Homo sapiens: one gene and its partners. The protein of the gene in region 4 interacts with the protein of the main gene of each other region in a pairwise test. Each region holds a gene or a part of one and is shown on either strand. Other genes may lie near its edges.

Region 1 (3,500 bases), on a different chromosome or scaffold from region 4:
TTGGACACTCCCAGCATTAGAGCAGTCCACTTAGATTTCTCTACATGTAAAATGAAAGAGTTGAACTAGATGTGTCTGAAGACTCCATTCTCTCCTAAATTTATATTAGGAGTGTGATCAAAAAGTAAATTAGAGCTCCTTTAAGAAATTGTTCTGTCAGGCCGGGAGCGGTGGCTCACGCTTGTAATCCCAGCACTTTGGGAGGCCAAGGCTGGTGGATCACCTGAGGTCAGGAGTTCAAGACCAGCCTGACCAACAAGGTAAAACCCTGTATCTACTAAAAATACAAAAATTAGCCGGGCGTGGTGGCAGACGCCTATACTCCCAGCTACTCGGGAGGCTGAGACGGAGAATTGCTTGAACCCGGGAGGTGGAGGTTGCAGTAAGCCGAGATCATGCCACTGCACTCCAGCCTGGGTAATGCAGCAAGACTCCATCTCAAAAAAAACACGAATTGTTGAAGAGGAAACAACACCCAAAAAGTACTTTTCTGATTCTTCTCATTAGGATACTACTAAACATCTAACAATGGAATTTCTATTTCTGCCAAATCTCATATATTCAGAATCAGGGAAAAAGAGCAGTATAATTTTTTTTTTTTTGAGACAGATTCTTGCTCTTGTCACCCAGGCTGGAGTGCAGTGGCATGATCTTGGTTTACTGTAGCCTCTGCCTCCCAGGTTCAAGCGATTCTCCTGCCTCAGCTCCCGTGTAGCTGGGATTATAGTTACTCGCCATTACCCCCAGCTAATTTTTGTATTTTTAGTAGAGACGGGGTTTTGCCTTGTTGGCCAGGCTGGTCTCAAACTCCTGACCTCATGATCCACCCACCTCGACCTCCCAAAGTGCTGGGATTACAGGCGTGAGCCATGGCACCTGGCCAGTATAATTTTTTTATCCATAGTTATGGCTACTTGAATTTACTTCATACATACCCCATAATTCTCTAAATTATTCTACCGTGGTTTACTCTTAGAAACAAGTTCCACATCAAGGGGGAGGTGGGATGATCTTTCCTTTATCTTACCACTGACACATTTCTTATCAAGGTGCCTGAAACATGTTATTGGTCTAAACAGAAATCCCATGGCTTTTCTAGGTTTAACTACAGGTTAATCAGAATATGCCTGGTCCATCTCAGCCTCATTTTCTTTTTTTTTTTTTTTTCTTTTTTTGAGACAGAGTCTCACTCTGTCGCCCAAGCTGGAGTGCAGTGGCACAATCTCAGCTCACTGCAAGCTCCGCCTCCCGGGTTCATGCCATTCTCCTGCCTCAGCCTCCCAAGTAGCTGGGACTACAGGCGCCTGCCACCATGCCTGGCTAATTTTTTTTATTTTTTACTGGAGACGGGATTTCACTGTGTTAGCCAGGATGGTCTCCATCTCCTGATCTCGTGATCTGCCTGCCTCGGCCTCCCAAAGTGCTGGGATTACAGGCGTGAGCCACCACGCCCGGCTGCTTCATTTTCTTGTAAGACCCAGGGTCATATGTTTGTGTCATGTGTTCAATGGGTAATCAATATGTATTAATTGATTTTATTTTGATACTCATAATTCCCTTAGAATCAGAGTCAAAGGGCTTTATTGCCTAACTTCATCGTTTATTTTTCTTCCTTGATCAACTTCCACTCTAGTTTGCTATTAATAGTCACCTGAAGGCCGGGAGTGGTGGCTCACACCTGTAATCCCAGCACTTTGGGAGGCCGAGGTGGGTGGATCACCTGAGGTCGGGAGTTCAAGACCAGTCTGGCCAACATGGTAAAACCCTATCTCTACTAAAAATAAAAATAAAAAAAATTAGCTGTGTGTGGTGGTGCGCGCCTGTAGTCCTAGCTACTCAGGCGGCTGAGGCAGGAGAACCGTTTAAAGCCGGGAGGCAGAAGTTGCAGTGAGCCAACATCATGCCACTGTACCCCAGCCTGGGCAACAGAGGGAGAGTCCATCTCAAAAAAAAAATAATAATAAGTCACCTGAGACTTGTTCCCACTGTACTTACTGCTAAAGGAACCCAAACGGTCCATTCCCTAATTGGCAACGAGTGCTGCTTTGGTCTTCCTCAGCAGAGCTTCTTCAAGACTTCAGAACCGGCCAACACATACACCAAAGCTTGATGACTCCCTAGGAACAAACAAAAGTGGCACATGGATCAGAAAATCATTCAAAGGGACAAGATAAAGAGAAGATATGCAACATACTCAGCTCTGCCACATCTTAGCTTTGTAATGTTGAAAAATTATTCCACCTCTGAAAACCTGTTTCTTCCTCTGTAGTGGGTATAACAGTGCCTACCTTCCAAAGTTGTGAGAATTAAATGTTATAATCAAATATCATAATCCATATAAGTAATGTAGCATGGTACCTGGTCCTCTATAAATGCTACATATTTTTCTTTTTTATGAGGAAGGATCTGGGTCTATGGGGCACTGAGGGTGGCAGGGGCAAATGCTACATATTTCTAATAAACAACTGTTGGCTTTCTCTACTCAGCATCATTTCTCTCCTTAGCTGCCATCTTTATTTGGGAAACTGACCCTCCCACATTTCATGTGATACTGGTGGGGCTGCCAATCACAATACCCCATTCCCCACCCCTGACAAAAGCTAAAGCAACCAGGTCTCTTCTTCCAGAAATCTGGATCTTGAGTAAGACATGAAAGGACAGAAGGCAGTTGGAGCTTAGTTATTCACTAGAATTCATTCAAAGAATTCAGTCCATGTGCTCTGGCTGTTGAAATCCCTAGCCCCAGGTGGCTCAACTGTTTAACTCTTCTCTCATTTCTCTCTCTTTAATAAACTTTAATAAACTCAACTTTAATCATAAGACTGAACGAGTTTCTGTAACTGGAAACCAAAAAATCCTATCTATTACAACATACATTTGTTCCTCACTCTTTCAACAAGTACGTAACAGGGCCAGGCACAGTGGCTCATGCCTGTAATCCCAGCACTCTGGGAGGCTGACGTGGGAGGATTACTGGGACCCAGGAGTTCAAGACCAGCCTGGGCAACATAGGGAGACCCCATCTCTTAAAAAAAAAAAAAAAAAGTTAGCCGGGTACAGTGGCCCATGCTTATGGTTCCAGCTACTCAGGAGGATGAGGTGGAACGCTTGGGCCTAGGAGGTCGAGGATGCAGTGAGCCACCACTGCACTCCAGCTTGGAGGACAGACTAAGTCTCTTTTTCTTTTTTTTTTGGAGACACAGTCTGGCTCTGTTGCCCAGGCTGGAGTACTCATTGCAACCTCTGCCTCCCAGGTTCAAGGGATTCTCATTCTCCATTTGGTTCTCATTTTTGATTCTTGTGTCTTGTGCCTCAGCCTCCTGAGAAGCTGGGATTACAAGCATGTGCCACCACCATACCTGGCTAATTGTTTTGTATTTTTAGGAGAGACAGGGTTTCACCATGTTGGCCAGGCTGGTCTCGAACTCTTGGCCTCAAGTGATCCGCCCACCTCGGCCTCCAAAAGTGCTGGAGTGCTGGGATTACAAGTGTGAGCCACC
Region 2 (2,597 bases), on a different chromosome or scaffold from region 4:
GGACGCCCGGCTAATTTTTGTATTTTTGTGGAGACGGGGTGTCGCCATGTTGACCAGGCTTGAAGCTGGATCAAGCAGTTGAGTTCCTTGGATTTTCTTATAGATGAGAATATTCTGCCTTTACCCTGGAGGATACACACGTACCTTCCCTCAGGCCGATGACCTCAGGCCTCCATGTCCCCGGAGCTCTAGGAAATGAGGGTGCGATCTCGGGCCCACACCCAGTGCTCTGGGTCATAAGCCTGGATCTGGAAAAACACACACCACTTGAGAAGCCAGGGATTCCCCAGGAAGCCCCCTCTCTGCCCTCCTCCAGCCTCCAGTCCACCCCATCCCTCCCCACCCCCACCTCCTCATATGGCCCCACCTACCTCCTCCATCTCCTCTGGGGAAACCCACGTCCTCCAGCGCATGGAACAGAGGAGCTGGTATCGAAGCTTATGGAACAAGGGTCGCTGGGAGTAGTTCTTCCCGTAGAGGAAGGAGAAGATGTCTTGTTTCGGGGCCTGGTTGTCCTCCTCCATGTCACTGGCCAGGTAGCTGGGGAGAGAGATCAGGTTGCTGCTCAGGGGCCCCACCAGGAGGGACCCCTGCCTGAGGGCAGCCTCTCAGAGAGGAGGGCAGGGGACCTTCCTCAGCTCAGCACCAACAGCCGCCCTGCAGAGAGCCCTGCCTTCCTCAGGAGGCCCCGCTGGACAGAGACCTGCTAAGGGTGCCTCTCAAACCTTCAGGAAGGAGATGATCCAAGTGGTAGCTGGGAGTGGTGGCTCTTGCTTGGAATCCCAGCACTTTGGGAGTCCAGGCAGGAGGATCACTGGAGGCCAGGAGTTAGGGACCAGTCTGGGTAATATGGCAAGACCCCCTCTGAATTTAAAAACAACCCAAGTCTTATGCTAAGGATGTGTCCTGCCATCCTTATACAAGACAGATGACGTCACCTCATCCTAGTCCCCATCCCTGTTCCTCCCACACCCCCCTTCCTTGTCATGTATGCACACACCTGTCTTCCCCCGTGCATCATAAGTGCCCCCAAGGACAGGAACTGACTGGTGTGTTTCTGTAAATCATCTCTCACCTACCAAAAGGCCACTAGAGGGCTTTGTTTATCTTGGTGCATTAATTCAACAAGCATTGCTGTGAACTCTCCCTTCCCATCCTTCCTATTCCCTGGCACATATGATGAACTTCATAAGGTTTTGTTGAATAAATGAATACATGAATGAATGAAGGAAAGAAGGAAAGATTTATCTTATAGGCAAATGCCATATGAATTATTCCATAGAGTCAATATAACATGAGCACTTGCAAAATGAAAAGAATTGTGCTGAGTGTTTCAGGAATACTTTGATATTTTGGCTGATTGGGTGGCTCATGTCTATAATACCAGCACTCTGAGAGGCTGAGGTGAGAACCCAGGAGTTCCAGAACAGCCTGGGTGACATAGCAAAACGTCATCTCTACTAAAAATCATAAAAACTGGCTAGATGTGGTGGCATGCACCTGTAGTCCCAGCTACTCAGGAGGCTGAGGTGGGAGCTTCACTAGAGCCTAGGAGATGGAGGCTGCGGTGAGCTATGATCTGGCTACTGCACTCCAGCCTGAGGGACAGAGCAAGTCTCTGTCCGGTAAAGATAAAAACAAAAAACTTTGATATTTTGACAAGACCCTGCCTTCAACAGGGGTCTACTCTGATGGGTTTGGGGAAAAGGAGGGCAGATAAACGAATCCAAAATGTCACATTATCCTAGGATGTCACTAAAGTGCTGTGGGCGTGCAGAAGCTGGAAGATCAGGGGAGGCATTGCAAAGGCTGTGGGGTTGAACTGACTTTAAGGAATGGGTCATTCCCTTCAGATCCACATGTGTGCAGGACACCCAGACAGAAAACACAAAATCAAAATGGAGTGGAGGGCATTTGGAAGGAGTGGCGAAAGCAAACAAGGAAAGATGAAGATGGTGGGCAGGTTTGGTGGTAGAAGGACTGCAGAGAGGGTTGAATTAGCCCTGTGGACCCGGGCCTCCGTTTAGAGACAAATCAGCTAAGGAGGTTGTTCAGGTGGGCAGTGAAGGGGGGGTGGGAGCTGTGCTTTGGAAAGCTATTCAGGCAGCACTAGGAAGCCCCCTGGCTTGGGGCAGGACTCGCAGGAATGCCCAGCAGGGAGTATTTGATGATGGATCTGTGTTATGCGAGGACGACCTGAATTTCTGCCTCTGTCATGGGAACCTGGAGAAGGAGGATGGAAAATTGCATTTGGTGTTGATATGGGAAGGAGAGAGACGAGAGAACCAGAAATGGCTGCTTGCTTGGGGAGCAGGGTCGTGTCCACGGCTTTCCTTTCCCCTTAGGACGGGTTTATGTTTCCTTTTGTTTGATTCTACTATTTGTCAACTGCATTTGTGTTTGTTTTTAGAAAGAACAGACTAAGAACACCATAGTATAATCTTATCGTTTTTATATACAGAGTAAAGAGGAGAAGTAGGGTAAAAAAATAGATGGAAGGTTGGAATCCCACTTCGTCCACTGTCCCAGGGTGTTGGATATTGACAGATGGGAAGAAGCAAACTACTCACAGAGCCAGGAAGAAATGAATGCGTTGG
Region 3 (3,500 bases), on a different chromosome or scaffold from region 4:
AAGTTGCAGTGAGCGGAGACTGCGCCACTGCAATCCAGCCTGGGCGACAGGGCAAGACTTCATTTCAAAAAAATAAGTAAAAAAATTTAAAAATAGGAAAAAGTTATAGAAAAAGGGTATAAAGAAAAAATATTTTTGTATATATGTACAATATGTTTTACACTAAGTGTTATTACAAAAGTCAGAAAGTTATAAAATAATAAAAGTATATTACTATATTATAAAGTAGTATTATAAGTATATTACTGTATTATAAAGTAATACAGTAAGCTAAGGTTAATTTATGGTTAAAGAAAAAATTTCTTGGCCAGGCGCGGTGGCTCATGCCTATAATCCCAGCACTTCGGGAGGCCAAGGTAGGTGGATCATGAGGTCAGCAGATCGAGACCATCCTGGTTAACATGGTGAAACCCCATCTCTTCTAAAAAAAAAAAAAAAAAAATTAGCCGGGCGTGGTGGCACGTGCCTGCAGTCCCAGCTACTCAGGAGGCTGAGGCAGGAGAATCACTTGAACCCAGGAGGCTCAAAAAAAAAAAAGAAAAAATGTTTCTATAAATTTAGTGTGGCCTAAGTATACAGTGTTTATAAAGTCTACAGCCTAGTAATGTCCTAGGCCTTCACATTCACTCACTGACTCAGTGAGAACAACTTCCAGTCCTGCAAGCTCCATTCATGGCAAGTGCCCTATAGAGATGTACCATTTTGTATTTTTTTTTTTGAGATGGAGTCTCGCTCTGTTGCCCAGGCTGGAGTGCAGTGGTGTAATCTCGGCTCACTGCAACCTCCGCATCCTGGGTTCAAGCAATTCTCCTGCCTTGGCCTCCCGAGTAGCTGGGACTACAGGCGCCCACCACCATGGCTGGCTAATTTTTTGGATTTTTAGTAGAGACAGGGTTTCACCGTGTCAGCCAGAATGGTCTCTATCTCCTGACCTCATGATCCACCCGCCTTGGCCTCAAAGTGCTGGGATTATAGGCATGAGCCACTGTGCCCAGCTCATTTTGTATCTTTTACACCAGATTTTTGCTGTACCTTTCCTATCTTTACATGTGTTTACAAACACAATTACCATTGTGTTACAATGGCCTACAGTATTCAGGACAATAATATGCTGTACAAGTTTGTAGCCTAGAAGCAATAGGCTATACTATATAGCCTAGGTACATAGAAAGCTACATCATCTAGTTTGTGTGAGTTCACGCTGTGATGTCTGCACAATGACAAAATCAACTAATGATGCATTTCTCAGAAGATATCCCCATTGTTCAGCAGCGCATGATTGTGTTTGTCAAACAGTGTGGTATATGCAGAACACGTGCTTTCCTTCTATGAGTCTGGAATTTGGGTAAGTGCTAGACAGAGGGTATGCATGTGATTAGCCCCCAATAAAAACCTTGGGCACTGAGTCTCTAATGAGCTTTTCTGGTTGTTACAACTCATTACTGGAACAATTAAGCATATCCTATAAGACTCCACTGGGAGAGGACTCTGGGAAGCCTGTCCCTGGTTTCCTGCAGACTTTGTCCCAGGTACCTTTTCCCTTTGCTGATATTACTTTGTATCATTCTAACAAATCTTGCTGTGAGTACAACCATATGGGAATCCTGTGAGTCCTCCTAGCAGATCACGAAATCTGGGAGTGGTCTTTGGGCCCTCCAACAGAGCCAGGAGCATATTTTTTTTTAAGAAAACAAGTACTGAGGTTGGGTGTGGTGGCTCAGGCCTGTAACCCTAGCACCTTGGAAGGCCGAAGCAGGTGAATCACTTGAGTTCACGAGTTCAAAACCAGCCCGGGCAACATGGCAAACCCCCATCTCCACAGAAAATACAAAAATTAGCCAGGCATGGTGGTGTGTGCCTGTAGTCCCAGCTACTTGGGAGGCTGCGATGGGAGGATGGCTTGGGCCCAGGAGGCACAGGCTGCACTGATCTCAGATCATGGCACTGCACTCTGATCATGGCACTGCACTCTAGCCTGGGCAATAGAGCCAGACCTTGTCTTAAAAACAAACAAACAAACGAAAGAAATTGTGAAGCTGACAATTTGATCAACCAACAGAAAATAACAGGCCAGGCACGGTGGCTCATGCCTGTAATCCCAGCAATTTAGGAGGCCGAGGTGGGTGGGTCACCTGAGGTCAGGAGTTCAAGACCGGCCTGGCCAACATGGCAAAACCCCATCGTTACTAAAAATACAAAAATTAGCTGGGCATGGTGGCACATGCCTATAGTCCCAGCTACTCAGGGGGTTGAGGCATGAGCATCTTGAAAACCCATGGTAAAAACAAACTGACAAGATAACAGCAAAATGAAACTTTGATACGTTATCACAAAACCTAATTACTTGTTATCTTTTTCACCCATCCCATAAAATACAATGATATATTCATTTGTACTTGCTGAGGTCTATGACAGATAACTAATAATGTAGACCAAAGAAATATACCCAATAAGAAATCTTTCTGTAGTCAAGTCACTCATCTTTATTGGTGGTATTATTTTAGCCTCATTACTTATATCTGTGATATAAAGATTAGTAAAATGCAACGTGTTACACTGACTAAATGCAATCACCTACACATTCTTAAAAAATAATATGGCCGGGCGTGGTGGCTCACTCCTGTAATCCCAGCACTTTGGGAAGCCAAGGCGGGTGGATCACTTGAAGTCAGGAGTTTAAGACCAGCCTGGCCAACATGGTGAAACCCCATCTCTACTAAAAACACAAAAATTAGCCGGGCGTGGAATCCCAGCTACTCAGGAGGCTGAGGCTGGAGAATCACTTGAGCCTGGAAGGCGGAGGTTGCAGTGAGCCAGGATCACGCCACTGCACTCTAGCCTGGGCGACAGAGTGAGACTCCATCTCAAAATAATAATAATAATAATAAATGTGAGGCAGATGTGTACATTGCTTAAAACTCAATTAAGACTTGAAATTTCATTATATGTAAAATTTACCTGAAAAGAAAAAAACAAATATTGAACTCTAGGTTAATAATATTCATGCTGAACTATTTACAGGAAAATGCATTGATGTCTTCACTGATTTTGAAATACATCAAAAATAGGATAGATGGCTGGGTGCGGTGGCTCATGCCTGTAATCCCAGCACTTTGGTAGGCCAAGGCAGGCAGATCACTTGAGGTCAGGAGTTCGAGACCAGTCTGGCCAACATGCTGAAACCCTGTCTCTACTAAAAATACAAAAATTAGCCAGGCGTGGTGGTGGGCACCTGTAATCCCAGCTACTCAGGAGGCTGAGCCAGAGAATCACTTTAATCCAGGAGGTGGAGGTTGCAGTGAGCCAAGATCGCACCACTGCATTCCAGCCTGGGCGACAGAGTGAGACTCCATCTCCAAAATAAATAAATAAATAATAGACGGATGGCTGGATGGAGTGATGCAGTGATAGATATATGCATGATAAGGAAGGATGGTATAATGTTAGTGGCAGAATTTAGGCGCTGGATATCCAGGTGTTCACTATAAAAATATTTTAAC
Region 4 (3,458 bases):
TTCTCCTTTCCACTAACAAATATTTATTGAAAGCATCTATTATGTGCAGGGCACTATGCTAACTCTGTGGATACAGCAAGGTTCTCAAGGAGCTTACATTCAAACCAGTAAAGCAGACAAATAGGTTATTACAATTCAGGGTGACAGAAAAAAGTAAGAGCACTATGGGGACACTTTGAGGGGAATGGGCACAAATAAAAATAAGTGGCTAGGATCAGACCAAGAAAATGGGATGTGCTACAAAACCCTGGGGCAGAGGAGAGACAGATCTTGGGAAGACATCGATAGCTAAAGCATACTTAGGCCATAATGGATTTTTTCCATCTTTTTCCCAAGTATTGAGCCCAAGAAGGACAGTGAGATGATATAGGCCTAATGAGGCTGACATAATCCAATAAGGATTTCTTTCCTTTGGATTTGCTGATACTGTATCCACATTTTTATACAAAGTAGCTAATACAACTTGGGCATTATTATATACAGCTGTTGGATTAAAAGTTTTTGGACAATCAATGAAATACTCTGCTAACTTCTACTGAGAGACAAGATAATAAGCCTTTAATGACATAAAAATCAGGATTACATCTGCATAATAAACTGATAGGATGCCACTGAAATTATCTTGGCTAGCAAACTGACTATAGTTCTAAAATGAGCCTCTGTAATAATGAAAACTTCGCCAAAATGCTTTAACATACTTACTTTGACTGATTTACATCAATAAGAGAACCTATTTTTGATGTGGTAAAAGATATGTGCTCATCTCCAATTACAATTTCAAGCTCCTAAAAAATATAGCAGAAAAATGTAGTTAATATAAAAATCTATCCCAGAGGTATCTGTATTCTTGCTACAAGCAGATCCCAATTTTAGTTGCAAGTTTTCTAGCAGCCAACAGAGGGAGTGGGGGGCGAGGGGGAAAGAAACATGGTTTCTTAGATATAAACTATATCCTTAAAATAAAGACTGCTCACGCGCACTACCCCCAAGTTTAGGACCAACAAAGAATTGCTTTCCAGAGACATAAAGAAGACACTATGAAACAAAATGACAAAGAAATATTTCTTACAATGTCAGTAAAAACTAAAGACATCACTTTGAAGCACATGTTGTAAAAATGATTGGAGTATAAGACCATTTTTAATATGATAAATACACATTTTTTCTTTCTGGAAGATTCTACAAATAAAATGTGTAATATTAATAACCACCACCACTTTAGCACCTACTGTATGTCAGGCCCTAGTGGTAGGGACTTTGTACTCTCTGTAATCTTGAAAATAACCTTACTAACCTATTTTACAAATGTGTAATCCAAAACTCATAGAGCAGAAGAAAATACTTGTTGATATTTATAACCACTAATAATGATGGTACTTATATTTGATCCCAAGATGGTAAGACTTCAAAACTAATACTCCACAAAATAACTAAAATTAAGAACTAGTAAAAAAAAAAAAAAAAAACCAACCTAATGTAGATGTTCCTAGTGTGCTGTAATTACTGTATAGATTTTTCCCTATATTGTTTATCTGCAGGCCTAAAACCAATAATTAAAAAGCTATATCTGTAATGAATCTTCAAGTTAACAGACACTATTGAAGACAATCCTAGCTATTTATTTAATCAGAGGCCTAATTATGCAGTTTATGACACACACAGAATGGAGAATTAGCTAAGATGCTCTAACAGCCATAAAACCTTTGACTTGATACAAAAGGCAATTTCTGAAGCATGCCTACTCCTCCCCACTAACCAAAACCCATGAACACATCCTTAAGTGAATAGATAAAATACTAGGCTCTCCCTGAGTCTAAATGATATAAAAGGTTAGCTGCTGTGGTTTGCTTTTTAGTACATATGTGTATCTGCATAAAACAAACTGAGGCCTAAATTTACTTTTTAAAAGTGATACGATGCTTAAAATAAATACTGTTAACTATTACCTTTGCTTTTCTAAATAATGCTTCTTTAAGCAGAAGACTTAAGTTACTCCTACAGAGTGTCAGCATGTGTTAGATTTCTCCACATTTTCTTCTATTCAAAGAAGGTGATACAAAGTACAATCCTCAGGGATATACAAAAGTGAAATTAAATGTTTCTTCCTTCCAGGGGTTGTTGAAGGAATTTCTCCAAGAGTTGAAAAGACCCAATTCAGAAACCAAACTTTCTTTTTACAGAGTGAAATTAGGCCTTCAGAGTTCTTCAGAAGCCTGAGAAACATCATTTATTCTGAAGGAATATGAGAGGGAAATGCAATCATCAGTTTTAACAAAGAAACCACCAATCAAGTTTCTCTCTGGGGTATAGGGATGCAAGTAAGAATTTTAGAAGTTATGATTTGGCAAAAATAAATTTTACATAGTCATATTCTTAATAAAAGTGATTAACACACAACAGAAATTATTCATAACACTGCATTGTGAAAACATCCTAACGTTGGCTGGGGTGACTACAGAGAAAGATGTCTAAATTTAGAGCTATGCACTGACTCCTTCACTACTAGGAGGTAGCACAGAAAAACAGAACTAAGAGATAAAATTAAAGAGAATTTACCAGGTGCCTATTAAATAGAAAGCCAAAGAATCAACTTAGACTCATTCCAAATAAATAACGGGAAACAAAATAGTATTATCAATTTTTAATATTTATACACTTAAAGAATCACTAAATACAAACCTGTCGGCCAACCCTATCAGGGGGAGGCCACAAAGCATCATCTTCTTTTGTAATTTCACTGTCATCAATAATTCTCTTCAGTTCTTCCATTACACTCTTGTGCACATAAGCCTAAAAATTAATCATAATAAAATGAGATAATGCCCACCTATGTCACCCCTCAACTCAGAAAGAAATGAGTTACAAACCCTGAATATCCAAATAGAGGAATATAGAAAAATTTAATTGATTCCAAAAGTAGAGGAGACAGAATCACTTATCCTTGTTACACTGCTTTTCTTCATCTCTTGCCCTTTCCTTTCACATACATTTTTTCCCTCTTCTCATCATTACCTGTCTTTCAAACACTGTATTCTGCCTTTGCAACACTGAGATCCAAATACCCACAAGTGGTTAACTTGTGTCATCACAAGATCTATAAGGTGAACTGTAATAAATGCAAGTATACTGAGGCAGGAGAATCGCTTGAGCCTGGGAGGCAGAGGTTGCAGTGAGCTGAGATCAAGCCACTGCACTCCAGCTTGGGTAACAGAGCGAGACTCTGTCCCTAAATCAATAAATCAATAAATGCAAGTGTAGTTCACGTCAAGGTTAGTTCTCTGAACTTTCTCATTCCTATGGATGCAAACACTGTATCTAATTTAAATGGAAACTCTTTCAATCTATAAATTGCCTTCTTCTTTACAATATAGCCTTAGATGTACTTTTTTAAATTCAACACAGACTTGAAGAAAATGGGCTAAATGCAAAAAAAAAAAAAAAAAAAAAAAAGACATTCA

What was found. Proteins that work in one complex are often made in the same cells at the same time.
Region 1: the proteins of MAGOHB (region 4) and TADA2A interact in binary tests that used the Homo sapiens proteins (3 or more experiments, as listed by UniProt).
Region 2: the proteins of MAGOHB (region 4) and SPDYE4 interact in binary tests that used the Homo sapiens proteins (3 or more experiments, as listed by UniProt).
Region 3: the proteins of MAGOHB (region 4) and ZNF398 interact in binary tests that used the Homo sapiens proteins (3 or more experiments, as listed by UniProt).

The regions. Positions count from the first base shown.
Region 1 is NC_000017.11:37,409,886-37,413,385, reverse strand, and holds part of TADA2A (transcriptional adapter 2-alpha), read right to left. Parts: intron 2,118-3,500; 5' UTR 2,021-2,117; coding exon 1,996-2,020; intron 1-1,995. UniProt on the Homo sapiens protein: Component of the ATAC complex, a complex with histone acetyltransferase activity on histones H3 and H4. Required for the function of some acidic activation domains, which activate transcription from a distant site. Binds double-stranded DNA.
Region 2 is NC_000017.11:8,752,950-8,755,546, forward strand, and holds part of SPDYE4 (speedy protein E4), read right to left. Parts: coding exon 2,571-2,597; intron 541-2,570; coding exon 372-540; intron 249-371; coding exon 189-248; 3' UTR 145-188; intron 1-144.
Region 3 is NC_000007.14:149,167,953-149,171,452, reverse strand, and holds part of ZNF398 (zinc finger protein 398), read right to left. Parts: intron 1-3,500. UniProt on the Homo sapiens protein: Functions as a transcriptional activator.
Region 4 is NC_000012.12:10,607,152-10,610,609, forward strand, and holds part of MAGOHB (protein mago nashi homolog 2), read right to left. Parts: intron 2,791-3,458; coding exon 2,680-2,790; intron 2,233-2,679; exon of another isoform or gene 1,947-2,232; intron 786-1,946; coding exon 703-785; intron 1-702. UniProt on the Homo sapiens protein: Required for pre-mRNA splicing as component of the spliceosome. Plays a redundant role with MAGOH in the exon junction complex and in the nonsense-mediated decay (NMD) pathway.